Linked DNA regions of Homo sapiens: region 2 is linked to region 1. Evidence: fine-mapped expression QTL. Tissue or cell type: blood mononuclear cells. Region 1 holds a variant in brackets; the other region holds the start of a gene. All regions are shown on one strand. Distances are from middle to middle.

Region 1 (8,000 bases):
TTCTGGGAGTAGAAAGAAACTTTAGAATTATTAGGACAAAGGGCCTTAATGAAAAGTCCAAAATATGAGATACTCAGGGGAGAAGGGTTAATGTAGTTTCATTACCTTTAAGCTTAAAATATATTCCAAACTAAGACACAAATACATAGTGGCCGGGCGCAGCGGCTCCTGACTGTAATCCCAGCACTTTGGGAGGCCGAGGCGGGCATTTCACTTGAGGCCAGGGGTTTGAGACCAGCCTGGCCAACATGGCAAACCCAATCGCTACAAAAATAGAAAAATTAGCCAAGCGTAGTGGCATGTGCCTGTAATCCCAGCTACTAGGGAGGCTGAGGCAGGAGAATCGCTTGAACCCGGGAGGCGGAGGTTGCAGTGAGCCGAGATTGCAGCACTGCACTGCAGCCTGGGTGACAGGGCAAGACTGTGTCTTAAAAAAAAAAAAAAGAGGCCGGGCGCAGTGGCTCACGCCTGTAATCCCATCACTTTGGGAGGCCGAGACGGGCGGATCACGAGGTCAGGAGATCGAGACCATCCTGGCTAACACGGTGAAACCCCGTCTCTACTAAAAATACAAAAATTAGCCGGGCATGGTGGCGCGCGCCTGTAGTCCCAGCTACACGGGAGGCTGAGGCAGGAGAATGGCGTGAACCCGGGAGGCGGAGCTTGCAGTGAGTCGAGATTGTGCCACTGCACTTCAGCCTGGGCGACAGAGCGAAACTCCGTCTCAAAAAAAAAAAAAAAAAAAAAAAGAGAGATAAATACACAGTAAAGCTAAGAAAAGATAGGTTAATGAAAAATGTATAATACACCAAACATACAGAAGATAAACTGGGCAATACTGCACAGGTATATGAAAACCTATGAATGACTGGATTCAGATGGATAGCATGATAAAAAAAAATTTTATATCTTAAATCCTTAAGTCCTCTTAGAAGAATTATAGACTTTGGATCAGATTTACTTTATTAATAAGATCCAAATATAAAGTTCTTTTTACTTATAATCATACACATATATATATATATATATATTCACCCCACACAAAGAAGCTATTTAGAAATTACTAGAAATAGAAAATTAATAAAGTTTTACATTAAAAGAAAGCCCAGAGGGTACATAAAGGAAAAGGACAACTGATATCAGAAGAGCAGAACAAAGGGAGGGAACAGAAAATGTCACAATCACCGTTTATAAGGTTTCTGTCAATAAGAAAATGGTTAACACATTTTAGAAAGATTTCAAATCATCAGAAACAGTTAAAATAAAAGCTGGTGCTTAAAAGTTTCAGTTACTTCATCACCTCATTCACTGACACTGCCAGGTAAATGAGGCATGACTATTGACTATTACAATCCGTCCATATAAAAATATTCCTAACAAAAAACTTCACACTAAAAAAATCCATATATAATATTTCTTTCAATGCAGCTTCTTGATGGTTTTATTCAGCCAGTAACCTTCATTATTCAATTAATACAAACCATATTTCATGCTGCTCCAGTTGGTGGCATCATTTTCAAATTTACTAAAAATAACAGGAACAATCTACTGAAGAAACTCATCGGCCAGGCGCAGTGGCTCACGTCTTTAATCCCAGCACTCTGGGAGGCTGAGGCGGGCGGATCACCTAAGGTTGGGAGTTCAAGACCAGCCTGACCAACATGGAGAAACCCAGTCTCTACTAAAAATACAAAATTAGCCGGGCGTGGTGGCAGGTGCCTGTAATCCCAGCTACTCAGGAGGCTGAGGCAGGAGAATCGCTTGAACCTGGGAGGCAGAGGTTGCAGTGAGCCGAGACCGAGCCATTGCACTCCAGCCTGGGTGACAGGAGCGAAACTCCGTCTCAACAACAACAACAAAAAAAAAAAAAAAAAGAAAGAAAGAAAGAAAAAAGAAACCCATCAACTGATGTTGGTTATTAAGGTAAAAAAGTTCAGGAAGAACTGTTTTTATAAAGTGAAGACTCATCTTCTTGCTCAGATCAGGCTAATCCAAGGAGATGGCATCCCTCTGGCCAAACATGTGCCCCCTGTGGACTCCCCCAAGACACTGCCTGCCTGTTCCACTCTTTAGATAAAATGACTGGTATACTTGGTTATTAGGATGATCACTGACTATTTTGTTGACAGATTCTAATGTGTGCTCAGACTAAACCAAAATCTCATATATTAAAGACTTTCACTCTTTAACAGTTAAAGTGAAAAAAACTCCTACAGGAACTGGACCTGGTTATGGCATTTCCAACGCAGGGGCAAGCGATGAATGGCAGGGTTGACCCCACCATTCCCCTGGTAATCACTGCTGGGTGTACTACTAACATTGCCTCGCATTCTCTGAACAAACCAATAAAGCAAAAGTAATTCCCACTTTATGGATAAGGAAGACGTAGAATGTGACTTGTCCAAGGCCACAGAGTAAACAGATGAGCTCAGATTCAAACCTTGGTGAATACCAGCTTCATAAAGCCAGTGCTCTGTCTACCGTAATATGCAACACTCTAAAGTTAGCAAAATCAAGTTTATTATACCCACGCTGTAATCCACATACTTGCAAGCAATTAATAAACTCAGAGTGGAAGGTTAAATCATCTGAAAATAAACATCAAAAATGTATCACTAATTCTTGGCAATTCTTGTATCTAAGCAATCACCAAAATATTTAATAACTCAAAGATGATTTATCATCAAACATAAGAATTAACTCCCTGGGAGGAAAGAAACAAAATTCTCAGATTTTTTTTTTTTAGTAACAGGGTATCTGTTTCCAAAATAAACATCTCAGACACGAAACAGTGTGGGAAAGAATCATTCCCTACGTGGTGGAGATTTCCCCACTGAATCACACTCAGTGCTAAGCACCCGCTGGCTTTGCACAGCACATAACGGTGCTTGAGGAAGATGCATCTGCTCTTGACACTGACATACTCGAAGGATTTCCTACCCAGTGATGAGCAAAATTTTCCTCTCTACCAGCCAGCAAGCTCAGCACTCCAGCACATGGCTTATAAGGATACTTGTATTAAAACCTTGGCCCAAAAAGGACAAAGCTGGCACAGGACCACATCTTGATGTAACTACATTCCACCAACTAGGAGCAATTTGTGAATGGCAAAAATGTAGCACAGACAATAATAGTATAACAATGCATCATCAAAAGGGGAAAATATAGATGATTAAGATGGAACGAAACAAGTAGATTCTCTCTTTGATGTCTACGTGTAAGTAAAAAAAAGTGGCCATGGCAATGCACTTCAATCAAGTCAACCATCCCTCCACAAAACTAACGCTTTGACACTTTGGAAAGCTTTCATTTCTCACTGGAACTCTACCTCTATACAGATTTCACTCTGTCTAAAATGACCATTGCAAAGCAAAATCAGCCCAGATCCATTTGGGACTCATGAATTAGTAAGACTATGGAAAAAAACAAACAAAAACCTAGTATTTTTTTTTTCCTTTGACAAGTTAATTCATTAAGATTAAAATGTTCTGGGAGGACGCGGTGGCTCACGCCTCTAATCCCAGCACTTTGGGAGGCCAAGGTGGGTGGATCACCAGGTCAGGAGATCGAGACCATCCTGGCTAACACGGTGACACCCCGTCTCTACTAAAAATACAAAAAATTAGCTGGGCGTGGTGGTGGGCACCTGTAGTCCCAGCTACTGGGGAGGCTGAGGCAGGAGAATGGCATGAACCCAGGAGGCGGAGCTTGC[C/A]GTGAGCCAAGATCGCACCACTGCACTCCAGCCTGGGCGACAGAACAAGACTCCGTCTCAAAAAAAAAAAAAGATTTAAATGTTTTGTTCTCAAGTCTATCATTTCTGTATTCTTCCAACTATTAACAATGCATTCAAAATATAGCTACAATTTCAAATAACTCTGCTAGAACAAAATGAAACTCTATCAATTTATCATAATAGAGGCCTAGCCTGTTAAAGTGAAAACCCTGAAGCTAAGAACACGTTTCAAGGTTTATGGTTTTGCTACTATCCTTGTATCTGTGGTAGAATACAAAAGCAAAACCTTCCTAGCACAATTCCTGGAGAAAGCCATCCATTGAACAAGCAAACATATCAAGTGCTTACAAGTAAAAGGTACTTCTTCACACAAGTACCATCTTTGTAGCCTTTCTTTCTGGGGCCCTGTTGGCACGGTGAATGGCCAAACTAACACGGCATAGGCAACAGCTCTTGAGTGCTTCCTCTGACCCAATGATCAAATTCTAGATCATGTAGCCTGTGAGTACAGACTACAGAAGCCTTTGAGAATTTTGGGAACAAGGTCAGAAAGTCTTCAAAAATTACTCGGATAAAAATAAAATTGCCTGCAGGGAAACATACACACTTCTTCCTACCTCTTTGGATTCCTTTGTGTAACAAGCTCCAGCCACTCTTGTCCACCATGTCCACATCAGCTTTGTGACTAACCAGCGTGGTGGCAATACTCTCCAGTCGTCGTGAGAGGGCTAGATCTAATGCCAGATCTCCGTTATGATCCGCTTCATTCAGCTTCCCAGGGAGCTACACAAACAAGTTTGTAAATTAGCGCCCAGTGAGTAGAGAATACGACCTATTTTAATTTCTCCCACCTTGACCCTTAAATATCATCTCTTATACAAATGTCAAATTTAAGTGCTCCAACACTGCTTACTCCCCAAATTCAACTTTATTCACAAACTTCTATCAGGCTTCCTCAGGGTACATGTTTTCAGGGAGTACAGAATTAATGGGGACCACATAGCCAACATAAACAATGTGGGAGACGATTAAAGGCCACCAGGAAAATGTGGACAGAGTGCTGTGGGGCACGAGTGCCAGGCAGAGGCTCAGAGAGTTTTACGGTGAACAGCTAATGTTTTCATGAAAGGCAGTGGCGTTCCTATTTCATTCTTCCCAGCAGTTTAATGTCTCCCCATACACTGGACACCCGGGATAAAACATACTTCGCTCCCATCTGTCAAGAGCCATTACATTTCTTTCAAGGTCATATGGTGGGCAGAATTATCACCCCCCCCAAAGACGGACATGTCCTAATCCCCAGAACCTATAAACATACCACGTTACATGGCAAAAGGCACTTTGAGGATGTGATTAAGGACCTTGTGATGGGGACAGTATCCCAGATTATCCAGGAGGCCCGACCTATCTAACCACAGAGGGCCCGACCCATCTAACCACAGAGGGCCCGACCCGTCTAACCACAGAGGGCCCGATCTATCTAACCACAGAGGGCCCGATCTATCTAACCACAGAGGGCCCGATCTATCTAACCACACAAGTCCTTCAAAGTGAAAAAGGGAACCAGAAGAGTAAGTCAGAGAGATGTGACATGAGAAGCACCTGACCCACCACTGCTGGCTTTTAAGACAAAAGCCGGGGGCTATGAGCTAAGGAATGTGTGGAGGGCTCTAGAAGGTGGGAATGGCCCTCGGCTGACAGCCAGCAAGAAAATGGGGACCTCGATCCTGTAAGTGCAAGAATCTGAATTCTGCCAAAGATCCAAATAAGCAGGAAATGGATTCTCCTCTTGAGTCTCTGGAAAGAAGCACAGCCTGCCGACATCCTGATTTTGGGCCAGTGATTCCTGTCCTAGACTTCCAACCTACAAAACTGTAAGGCAATACATTTGTGTTGTTTTAAGCCATTAAGTTTATGGTAATTTATTATAGCAGCAAAAGTAAACTAACACAGATTTTGGCACCTAAAAGTTAAGAAGCGTTTAAAAAAAAAAAAAAACTACCTAAAAGCATTTAAGAGGTTTTTAAATTGGGCAATGGGCTAAGGCTGGAAGAATTTTGAGAAACATGTTAGAAAAAGCTCAGATTGCCTTGAACAAACTATTTAGTAGAAATCCGTACGTTAAAGACTGTGCCAGTCATGGCTCGGAAGGAAGTGAGAAGTACCACGGAGAAAGACAAGTGCATTAGAGTTTCGGGAAATGAAGAATGGAAAAGGCAGCTACAGTACCTGGGAATCCATTTCAATCAGATACAGGAAGACCACGTCTTCTCTCTCCACTTTGATGGCTTTATGTAGCGGGTACTCTGTCTTGGATTTGATCATTTTGTATAACAACTGAGCGCTCATGCTGCTGAAATCCTCCTTCCTCAGGTCGTCCTGAGAATTCACAACACAGTGAAAAGCAGAACAGACACAAGGCAATGAATCCAACCACCATTTAGCAAGCCTCTCAAATGCATCAGTCAGGCCCTTCTTTAAGGGCTTAACCTTTCCCAACTCATTTATTTCTCCCCAAAACCCAATGAAGTAAGTACTTGAACATCCCCATTTTACAGAAGAAAATATTATGGCATAAAGAGATTAGATAACTTGCTCAAGTTCAGACAGTCCTTAAATGGCTGGGGAACCAGAAGGCTGACGTTCCGAGCCTCACTCTCCTCCAGCATTACTGTGCCTCCCAGTGAGGTGGCAAAACACCAGCCATGCATACCTCTAACAGGAATGCGCCCCAAGGGAGCCTCACATGAGAGCAGGGAGTCCTCCTCCCACCCCCTGAAAGATGGCAGTTACAAAATCAATTCCAACTTCCACAAACAAGTCACTCCACTGAGTCGCAGCTGGTCCCTATTATTGCAGATCTCTATATTTCTGCCTATTTTAAAAGAAAGGTTACCAATCCTGTTTCAATGCCTTAAAATCCAGTTCTTTAGCCGCCTTTTCTGAAACTCTAAGGCTTTTCCCACAGTGTTGTTGAATACCAAACAATTCGCAGAAACTAATTTGCAAAAGGTAGCACCAGCCCTAATATTCTAAAACTGCAAACAACAACAACAAAATGTAAACACTGGCCGGGCGCAGTGGCTCACGCCTGTACTCCCAGCACTTTGGGAGGCCGAGGTGGGCGGATCGATCACCTGAGGTTGGGAGTTTGAGACCAGCCTGACCAACGTGGAGAAACCCCCGTCTCTACTAAAAATACAAAATTAGCCAGGCGTGGTGCTGCATGCCGGTAATCCCAGCTACTCAGGAGGCCAAGGCAGGAGAATCGCTTGAACCTGGGAGGCGGAGGTTGCAGGGAGCTGAGACCGTGCCATTGCACTCCAGCCTGGGCAACAAGAGCGAAACTCAGTCTCAAAAAAAAAAAAATGTAAACACTGTTCTTTATGATGAAACAACCTAAGAAAGGGAAATCTAAACTGAAAGATGCTCTCCGCCTGATTAGGAGAGCAAGGGCAAGCTCTGAAACTGTGCTGCTGAAGCTGCAGGGCCTGCTGGCCGTGGAGCCACACCCTACTCCTGCAGCTCAGCAGCAGCTTCCACAGATGGAGGGTGAAGGCAGGTGATGCTTCCAAGCCTGTTTCTGGACCTCAGCTATCTTTTTTGGGGGGGCGGGAGACGGAGTCTCGCTCTGTCACCCAGGCTGGAGTGCAGTGGCGCGATCTCAGTTCACCGCAACCTCCGCCTCCCGGGTTTACGTGATTCTCCTGCCACAGTCTCCTGAGTAGCTGGGACTACAGGCACGCACCACTGAGCCCAGCTAATTTTTGTATTTTTAGTAGAGATGGGGTTTCACCATGTTGGCCAGGCTGGTCTCGAACTCCTGACCTCAAGTGGTCTGCCCGCCTGGGCCTCCCAAAGTGCTGGAATTGCAGGCGTGAGCCACCGCGCCTGGCCAGACCTGAGCTATCTTTTGTCCTTTGGCTCCGAAATCACAGAACTACCAGAATTTGAGTTGAAAAGAGTCTCATAGATCATCTAATCAAACTATTTATTCTTCAATTGTGTAACAAGAGAAAACCAGGTGCCAGAGAGGTCACTTTCCATGGAACTACGTCCCCAGCGGCGGTCTCCTGACTGCCAGCTAGAGTGCTTTGTTGACACCCTCAACCTCACTCACCCAATGACTTGCAATAATTTCTGCACAGTAGTTCATCAGTGTGCTGGCATTCAGCTCCTCTGCCGTCTGGTAGAAGCGAATACAGTTCCTGACATTCACTAGAGACATAACACCCTTCTCACATCTGTAAGAGAGTATTCATCATGA
Region 2 (8,110 bases), 63 kb before region 1:
AACTTAATTTTAATTCTATTTCCCCTCTACATGGCAGTTAATTAAATATTGCTCCTTGTGAGCAAACTGAGAGAGTCCCTTCTCCCTGGACCACACCTACCATGAGAAAAGGTGTGTTGTACTATAAAATGATAATGTTTCAGACTTTGGTCCATGGTCCAACTCCAAGAACTTCTTTATAACACCTCCTCAAGTAACTGAGGTCACAGGAATGTGAAAGCAAGACAGCTGCGTGGACACCAATGGCAGCTAAGTTAGGAAGCCAAAGAAGAAACATGTAACACTTGGAAACTCTCAGCATTATAATAAACCATGCGCACCTTCTCCCTGGACCACACCTACCATGAGAAAAGGTGTGTTGTACTATAAAATGATAATGTTTCAGACTTTGGTCCATGGTCCAACTCCAAGAACTTCTTTATAACACCTCCTCAAATAACTGAGGTCACAGGAATGTGAAAGCAAGACAGCTGCGTGGACACCAATGGCAGCGTAAGTTGGGAAGCCAAAGAAGAAACATGTAACACTTGGAAACTCTCAGCATTATAATAAACCATGCGCACCCGTGGCTATCTGTTTTACCATGTTAGCTCTTATAAAAACGAATGACGGAAACAACTTGTCATTTTAGTTGCTACTATAAAGACATTACTTCACAAGCCCTTCATCTTGCAGTAAAATACAGCAGTATATTCTCAAAAGCTTAGACGTAGATTAACAACGCAGAATTAACTGTGTAAGTATGCACAAAAGTATATACTTATTCAAGTCTAAGGATAGACATTCTTAAAGCACAGAATCAAATGCATGGCTAAATCTTATCTTCTTTGGCTAGTCCTAACTTACTAGTTCTTACAGACAGAGCAGCCATCACAAGATTATCATGAGAGACGGTGGCCACTGTGAGATTATCACAATCAGGTTTTTAAACCTTGGCTAAGCCTCACTCACAGAACTGTATGACCTAGCTATGTGAATCAAAGACTGCCAAATATAACTCAATGTTTTCTCTCCCCTTCCTCAATAATTAAGCCCTGAGTTTTAGCTGAATATATGGCCACGGAAAAAGAATCTTTCCCAGCCTGTCCTGCAGGTAACTGCGGCCATGTGACTGAATTTTGGCCTGTGGGATGTAAGCTATGCCCGTAAGAGAGTGGGCATGGCTTCTTCCTTCTCCTTCCCTTTTCCCTTTCTTGCTTGTTGGAATGTGGAAAATGACAGCAGGAGTCAACAGAATTACTAAGTGGAAGATGTCCGTGGAGGATGACAGCACAAGATGGACGAAGCCAGGTCCCTGATGATGACAACACTGCCACATCAATCTTGGACTGCCTACCTGGACATTTTCATAAGGAAGCAGCTTCTTTTTATGTTTAAACCACTGATGCATTAGGTTTTCTGTCCCTTGAAAAAGTTTTGTGTATCCCTAATACACCACACCAGACTTCTTCCAGATTCTCTGGACTTTGAACTTTTGTGGATACAATTTCCTCTGCCTGAAACGCTGTTACTACCTCCTGTAACACTATCTGCTTTCACCATTCACCTGTGGGCTGAAATGTTACCTTCTCAGGTAAGTCTTGCTTGAGCCCCAAGTGAGGTTAAATACACTTGCTATTTATTCCTTATACCTTCCCCCTCGGTTAACACTCACCATATCTTATAATTAATGGGTTAATACCTGTCTCTTCCACCACAACTACATACTCTTTAAGAGCAAGTATCTGCTTTGTCCACTGTCATCCAAGTGAGTGGCACTCGATATACGCCCAATAAACATTTGCTCAGTGAACAATAATGCCACAACCCCTGAGTGATTTCTGGACCACACCTCAAGTATTTCTTGACCTTCTATTAAGGGACTCCTATGAACTCTACATAAAGTTCTATTTCTGTCAGAAACTCTCAGAATGTAAACGGTGTTTCTCTCCATTTGCCTTTGCTCAAATCTGCAAAGTGCCATCTCCTTCAACAGTTCTGCATGGTTCTTCCCACTACTACTTCATATTCTCATAATACGCGTAGATACTAGAAAGAAGGTACTATGTGTATTCCTGGGGGGAAAAAAAAAGGAGATCTTTCACTAACTAATATGACTTTTTTTTTTTTTTTTGAGACAGAGTATCGCTCTGAGGCCCAGGCTGGAATGCAGTGGCGTGATCTCAGCTCACTGCAACCTCCGCCTCCTGGGTTCAAGCGGTTGTCCCACCTCAGCCTCCCAAGTAGCTGGGATTACAGGCACCCGCCACCATGCCCAGCTAATTTTTGTATTTTTAGTAGAGGTGGGGTTTCACCACGTTGGCCAGGCTGGTCTTGAATTCCTGACCTCAGATGATCCTCCCGCCTCAGCCTCCCAAAGTGCTGGGATTACAGGCGTGAGCCACTGCGCCCAGCCATGACTATTATTTTTAAGGGTTGGGATGCCTTAAAGGTACTTTTTTCATAAGAAACACACAAACTACATTATCTGAATTCTGGCCATGTACAGGAAGACATTCTTAAAATATTTTAAAAGCCTCTGATTTTAAGGTGAACAGAACCTTTTAAAGGCACTGCAAGTACCCGCTGGTTTACTGCTTTATGTACACACCCTTCGTGGCCACTGAAGATTCTACATGACTGGCTAACTCATTTTCACAAAATAAGTACCTTTTTGGTCATACCGTGGTGTTAAAAGAAATAGGATCCCAGGAAGGAGGTAGTGAGACATTAAAAACAAAAAATAGGGTGCGGGTGGAGGGAGAGAGAGCATCAGGAAGAATACCTAATGGATGCTGGGCTTAATACCTGGGTGATGGGATGCTGTGTGGAGTAAACCACCATGGCACACGTTTACCTATGTAATACATCTGCAAATCCAAATCCTGCACATGTACGCCTGAATTTAAAATAAAAGTTGAAAGAAAGAAAAAAAAAAAAAGCAAGAGATCTAGTTGATAGTCTGTTTTACTAATGATTCACTGGGTAACCCTGGATCAGTCTTCTTAACTCGAAGTGAAGCGCCCAGTAAATAAACTCCCAAAATGCCTTCCAAGGAAAATATTTTGTTGCCAAATCAATTTGCTCTCTTAATGACTTAGCAGACATGATCTTGGTGATTATATGAAGAACTGCATAATTACAAGTATTCACAGGAAACCTGGTATTTGCCTATCAGTTTCGGATCCTATGAAGGTTTAAATGAGTCTAATATATGGTTCTTTAAGGATCTACAAACCAGTATGTATTTTAGAAAAGCTAGTTTTTGCATGAGGAGGATAGGTTTTAGAATGTGAGCCTTTCCAGCATGTTACTACTGTCTTTCCACACTTATTCGGCGCCCACACTGAATTGGGAAGGTGCTGTGTAAAAACCTGGACAGGACAATACAAAAAATGGTTCTCAGCGCCACTCCTCCTATCCTTACATCTCTTTTCTCTCCAAACTGTTCGAGAATCTGATAGAAGATCTCCAGAGTAGCGTCAATCAACTGCACAAAGGTCTGCATTACAACATACAGAGAGAGACATATGGGCTTGTCCAGCTCTTCAGAGCAAGGACGGCCTGATGCAGACTTTCCAGACCTCTAACATAGGTTAAAGAGAAACGAAGCAAACGCCTGGTGAAAAGCTGGAAACACCTCATATGGGTCCCCGCCTGGCCTCTCCAAAGCAAATGCCCACCTCTTCCTTCAGTCCCCTGGGGGCGACCGCCCTGCCCCATCCCCGCAGTCGCCTGCCGGCCCTGACCTCCTCGAACTGCTCGCTAGAGCAGCCGGCGCCGCGAGCCTCCAGCAGCTCCCGGAACTGCTCCAGAGTGACAGACTCTTCGCCGCGGCCCAGCCGCTCTTCCAGCCAGCGAAACAACGCGCCGCGATGCCTCGACACCAGCGACTCGCAGGGGGGTGTGGGCAGCAACGCTGCAGCAGCCTCTCGCAGCCTGGCCGGCTCCAGCAGCGCCGCGGCGGGTGGTAGCGCTGGAGCCGCGACGCCCGGGCCGGGGGTCGTGCCCGAGACCGCGGCCCAGTCCTGGTGTGGGCCCCAGCCCTCGCCACCGGCAGCTGCCGCTTCGTCTTCACTGCTGTGACTCGGAGCGTTCCCCATGGGGTCTCCGTCTTGGGCGCCTGGCTCTGCAGCCGCCGCCGCCGCCTCCCCGCCTCGACCTGTCAACCTCCGACAGCAGCTGGCGGGCGGGGACGCGGAGGAGACGACGGCGGCCCCTGCGGCTTCCGGCTTCCTGGCCGTCAAGCGACGACCGCTGTCGCAAAGGCGCCGTCACGTAGATAGGCGGCCTCTACCAACTCACGACAGCTAGGCGGGGAGCGCCGCCTCAAAGGGTGCAACCTTGATTTCCCAGAGGACGAGTCTGTCTCAGTATCTACGTCATTCCGTAGCCTCCGCTGCCGCCATCTTTGTTGGGGCTGACAACCTGCAAGCCAAGAAGTACGAGAAGGGCCAGGCGCGGTGGCTCACGCCTGTAATCCCAGCACTTTGGGAGGCCGAGACGGGTGGATCACCTGAGGTCAGGAGTTCGAGACCAGCCTGACCAACGTGGTGAAACCCTGTCTCTACTAAATACAAAATATTAGCCGGACGTGGGGGCGCGTGCCTGTAATCCCAGCTACTTGGGAGGCTGAGGCAGGAGAATCGCTTGAACCCGGGAGGCGGAGGTTGCAGTGAGCCGAGATTCCGCCAGTGCACTCCAGCCTGGACAACAAGAGCTAAAACTCTGTCTCAGAAAAAAAAAAAAAAAGTACCTGGAAAAAGTCGCAGACAGCGAGCTTTTCGCCAGTGCCAGGAATACAGATAAAACGAGAGAGACTAAGGGAGGGAGCGCGAGCACTAGCGCGCGAGAGAGAGAGCGAGAGCGCGCGCGCCGATGACGTCACGCTCGGCGTCTCGGCCATCTTAGCTGTAGATAGAGGCGGCAACCTCGGAAGTGCGGAGCGGGTGGGCCTATATAGATGTTGAGGTGCGGAGGCCGTGGGCTTTTGTTGGGCCTGGCTGTAGCCGCAGCAGCGGTAATGGCAGCACGGCTTATGGGCTGGTGGGGTCCCCGCGCTGGCTTTCGCCTTTTCATACCGGAGGAGCTGTCTCGCTACCGCGGCGGCCCAGGGGACCCGGGCCTGTACTTGGCGTTGCTCGGCCGTGTCTACGATGTGTCCTCCGGCCGGAGGCACTACGAGCCTGGGTCCCACTATAGCGGCTTCGCAGGTATCAGCGAGGCTGCTCACGCCTTTCTCTCCGCTGGCGCGAGCCAGTAGCCACCTGCGCGTCGTTCGTTGGTTCATTATTCATCTATTTCCCCCCCCATCCCCACCCCACATCCATCAAACCCGTGCGGTGGGCGGGACGAGCTGCATGCACTATCCTTCTAGGCTCTCTGGCTCTGGCGGGACTGTGGGCCAGCTCTGTCATCCACCACCGCCCTGCGTGACTTACATTGGAGAAACATGTCTTCTGTCTCTTGTTACCCATTACCCAGCGTCGGAAGCCCTAGGATACGGGCTGTGTGCCGGACTTTTGTGGGGGCTCTTAGGGCACAGATAAACGAGATCCCGCCCCGCCCCTACCCTCACAGTTTCCTTAATAATTCCAACCATCTCTTCATTATGCCCTGGTCCCAAATAATCTTTCTTCCCCCCACCCCTAAGCATAGTGTTTTCAAGGTTCATCCATGGTTTATGAGCATGCATCAATACTTTATTCCTTTATGGCCCGTCATATAGTACATTTGGTCTGAGTCATTCCTGCTTCTAGTACAAGATGCACCTGTTTGCCTTCCTTAGAAGGTTAGGGCAGAGGAAAGGGGTCCAGTCACCTTTACAGTCCTTGATACGTAGACCAAAGTTGTGCATATGTTAGGCCTCAAGAAACATTTGTCAAATTAAGTTTATGCTGGTGTCCCTGTGTTACAGCTGAGGGGGTTAAAGGATGCGATTTGCCTGAAACCCTCACACCTGAATACTGACAGAATATGGACTCGGACCACCAGTCTAGTGCTTTTTTTTTAAAGATGGAATCTCGCTGTGTCGCCCAGGCTGGAGTGCAGTGGCCTGATCTCGGCTCACTGCAAGCTCTGCCTCCCGGGTTCACGCCATTCTCCTGTCTCAGCCTCCCGAATAGCTGGGACTACAGGCGCCCACCACCACGCCCGGCTAATTTGTTGAATTTTTAGTAGAGACGGGGTTTCACCATGTTAGCCAGGATGGTCTCGATCTCCTGACCTTATGATCCGCCCACCTTGGCCTCCCAAAGTGCTGGGATTACAGGCGTGAGCCACCACACCCGGCCAGCCTAGTGCTTTTTTACAGATGTTGCCTTGCCAGCCAGCGGGACTGACCTCCAAAATTTAAAAAGAAAAAAAAAGTGCAGGGCAAGCCTAAGATCAGCTACTAGGCTGACATTAAATAAGCATTTTCCACTTGTCATTATCTTAGGGGAATTGGGAAGCTGCCTCTAGCACTTAAAATACAAGCCACTTCCCTCTGTCTAGGAAGTACTAAAGAAATACAAAAGTTGACAGAAAAGGAATGAAGTCCAGTTGGTCTCGCAAATCCCCTGAGATAGTCCAGCAGGGGAAGGGACTTACTCAGGGGTACACAGTGAGTTAGAAGCAGAGCTGGGACTGGAATCAAGGTGTTTTGTCGCTGCTAGTTGAAGGCAGTTTTCGTTGCGCTGCCCTGCTGCGTGCTGTGGGAGCTGTCGTTGGATGTTTGCACAAGTGTGGGCATAAAACCTTCGATGTCTGGAGTGCTTTTTATTTTTCAGTGTGCTCTGCTGTTTACTGAGCTCCCGTGTTCTGGTATTCATTGACCATCTTTATTTACCACTACCTACCTTGTGTCAGGGGCTGTGGAATCCAAGATGTCTGCAACATGCTCCCCACCGCCCACACAGTCTAGTTGGGAAGCAGTTATGTCCACGTATTCGTTCATTCAGTATTTTATTTCTCATTGAGATGTAATTCACGTGATGTAAAGTCCTTTTAACGTATACAATTCAGTGGGGTTTTTTGTTGTTTAGAGACAGGGTCTGCCTCTGTCACCCAGGCTGGCGTGCAGTGGCATGATCTTGGCTCACTGCAACCTCCGCCTCCCAAGCTCAAGCAATCCTTCCACTTCAGCCTCCCAAGTAGCGGGGACCATAGGTGTGCACCATCACGTGCAGCTAATTTTTGTATTTTTTGTAGAGATGGGTTTTCGCCATGTTGGCCAGGCCGGTCTTGAACTCCTGAGCTCAAGTGATTCAGCCGCTGAAAGTGTTGGGATTACAGGTGTGAGCCACTGCCCCCAACCTTTTTATTTATTTATTTTTATTTTTCGAGATAAACTGGTTCTTTAGCCCAGGCTGGAGTGCGGTGGCGCAATCTTGGCTTACTGCAACCTCTGCCTCCCGGGTTCAATATTCTTGTGCCCCAGCCTCCCGAGGAGCTAGGATTACAGGCGTGTGCCACCATGTCTGGCTAATTTTTTTTATTTTTAATAGAGATGGGGTTTTGCCATGTTGGCCAGGCTGGACAGGAAATCCTGGCCTCATGTGATCCACCTGCCTAGGTCTCACACAGTGCTGGGATTATAGGTATGAGCCAAAATTCAGTGTTTTTTTTGTTTTTTTGAGATGGAGTCTCACTCTGTCGCCCAGGCTAGAGTGCAGTGGCGCAATCTTGGCTCACTGCAAGCTCCGCCTCCTGAGTTCATGCCATTTTCCTGCCTCAGCCTCCCGAGTAGCTGGGACTACAGGCGTCCACCACCACACCTGGCTAAGTTTTTGTATTTTTAGTAGAGACGGGGTTTCACTGTGTTAGCCAGGATGGTCTCGATCTCCTGACCTCGTGATCTGCCTACCTCAGCCTCCCAAAGTGCTGGGATTACAGGCCTGAGCCACCGCGCCTGGCCCGGTGGGTTTTTTTTTTTAGTATAGCCAGAAATTTGTAAAAATGTCACCACTAACTCTAGAACATTCTTCTCACCCCAGAAAGAAACTTCTTATCTATTAGCAGTCACTCCTTATTCCTTCCTTTGCCAACCACTATCTACTTTCTTTTCCTGTCGATTGGCCTATTGTGGGCATTTCATGGAGTCATACGTGTGGCCTTTTGTGTCTGGCTTCTTTCACCTAGCATCATGTTT

Evidence for each region. PIP is the estimated chance that this variant, and not a neighbour inherited with it, causes the effect.
Region 2: CYB5D2 starts here. The variant in region 1 is fine-mapped to the expression of CYB5D2 in blood mononuclear cells (TOPMed, PIP above 0.99).

Annotation. Positions count from the first base shown.
Region 1 is chr17:4,201,971-4,209,970 of GRCh38, forward strand. ANKFY1 (ankyrin repeat and FYVE domain containing 1) reads right to left here. Exons shown (of 25, transcript NM_001330063.2): 5 at 7,854-7,977; 6 at 5,963-6,112; 7 at 4,351-4,516. Among named protein-coding and RNA genes, the nearest start is that of ANKFY1, 58 kb to the right of the region's middle. RefSeq lists a silencer at 5,080-5,280. The variant C/A (reference allele first, on the strand shown) is at 3,713.
Region 2 is chr17:4,138,814-4,146,923 of GRCh38, forward strand. CYB5D2 (cytochrome b5 domain containing 2) reads left to right here and starts at 4,384. Exons shown (of 4, transcript NM_144611.4): 1 at 4,384-5,192. The coding sequence starts at 4,943. ZZEF1 (zinc finger ZZ-type and EF-hand domain containing 1) reads right to left here and starts at 4,217. Exons shown (of 55, transcript NM_015113.4): 1 at 3,729-4,217. The coding sequence starts at 4,082. RefSeq lists a silencer at 3,943-4,112 and enhancers at 3,978-4,529, 4,193-4,502, 4,530-5,082, 4,653-5,232.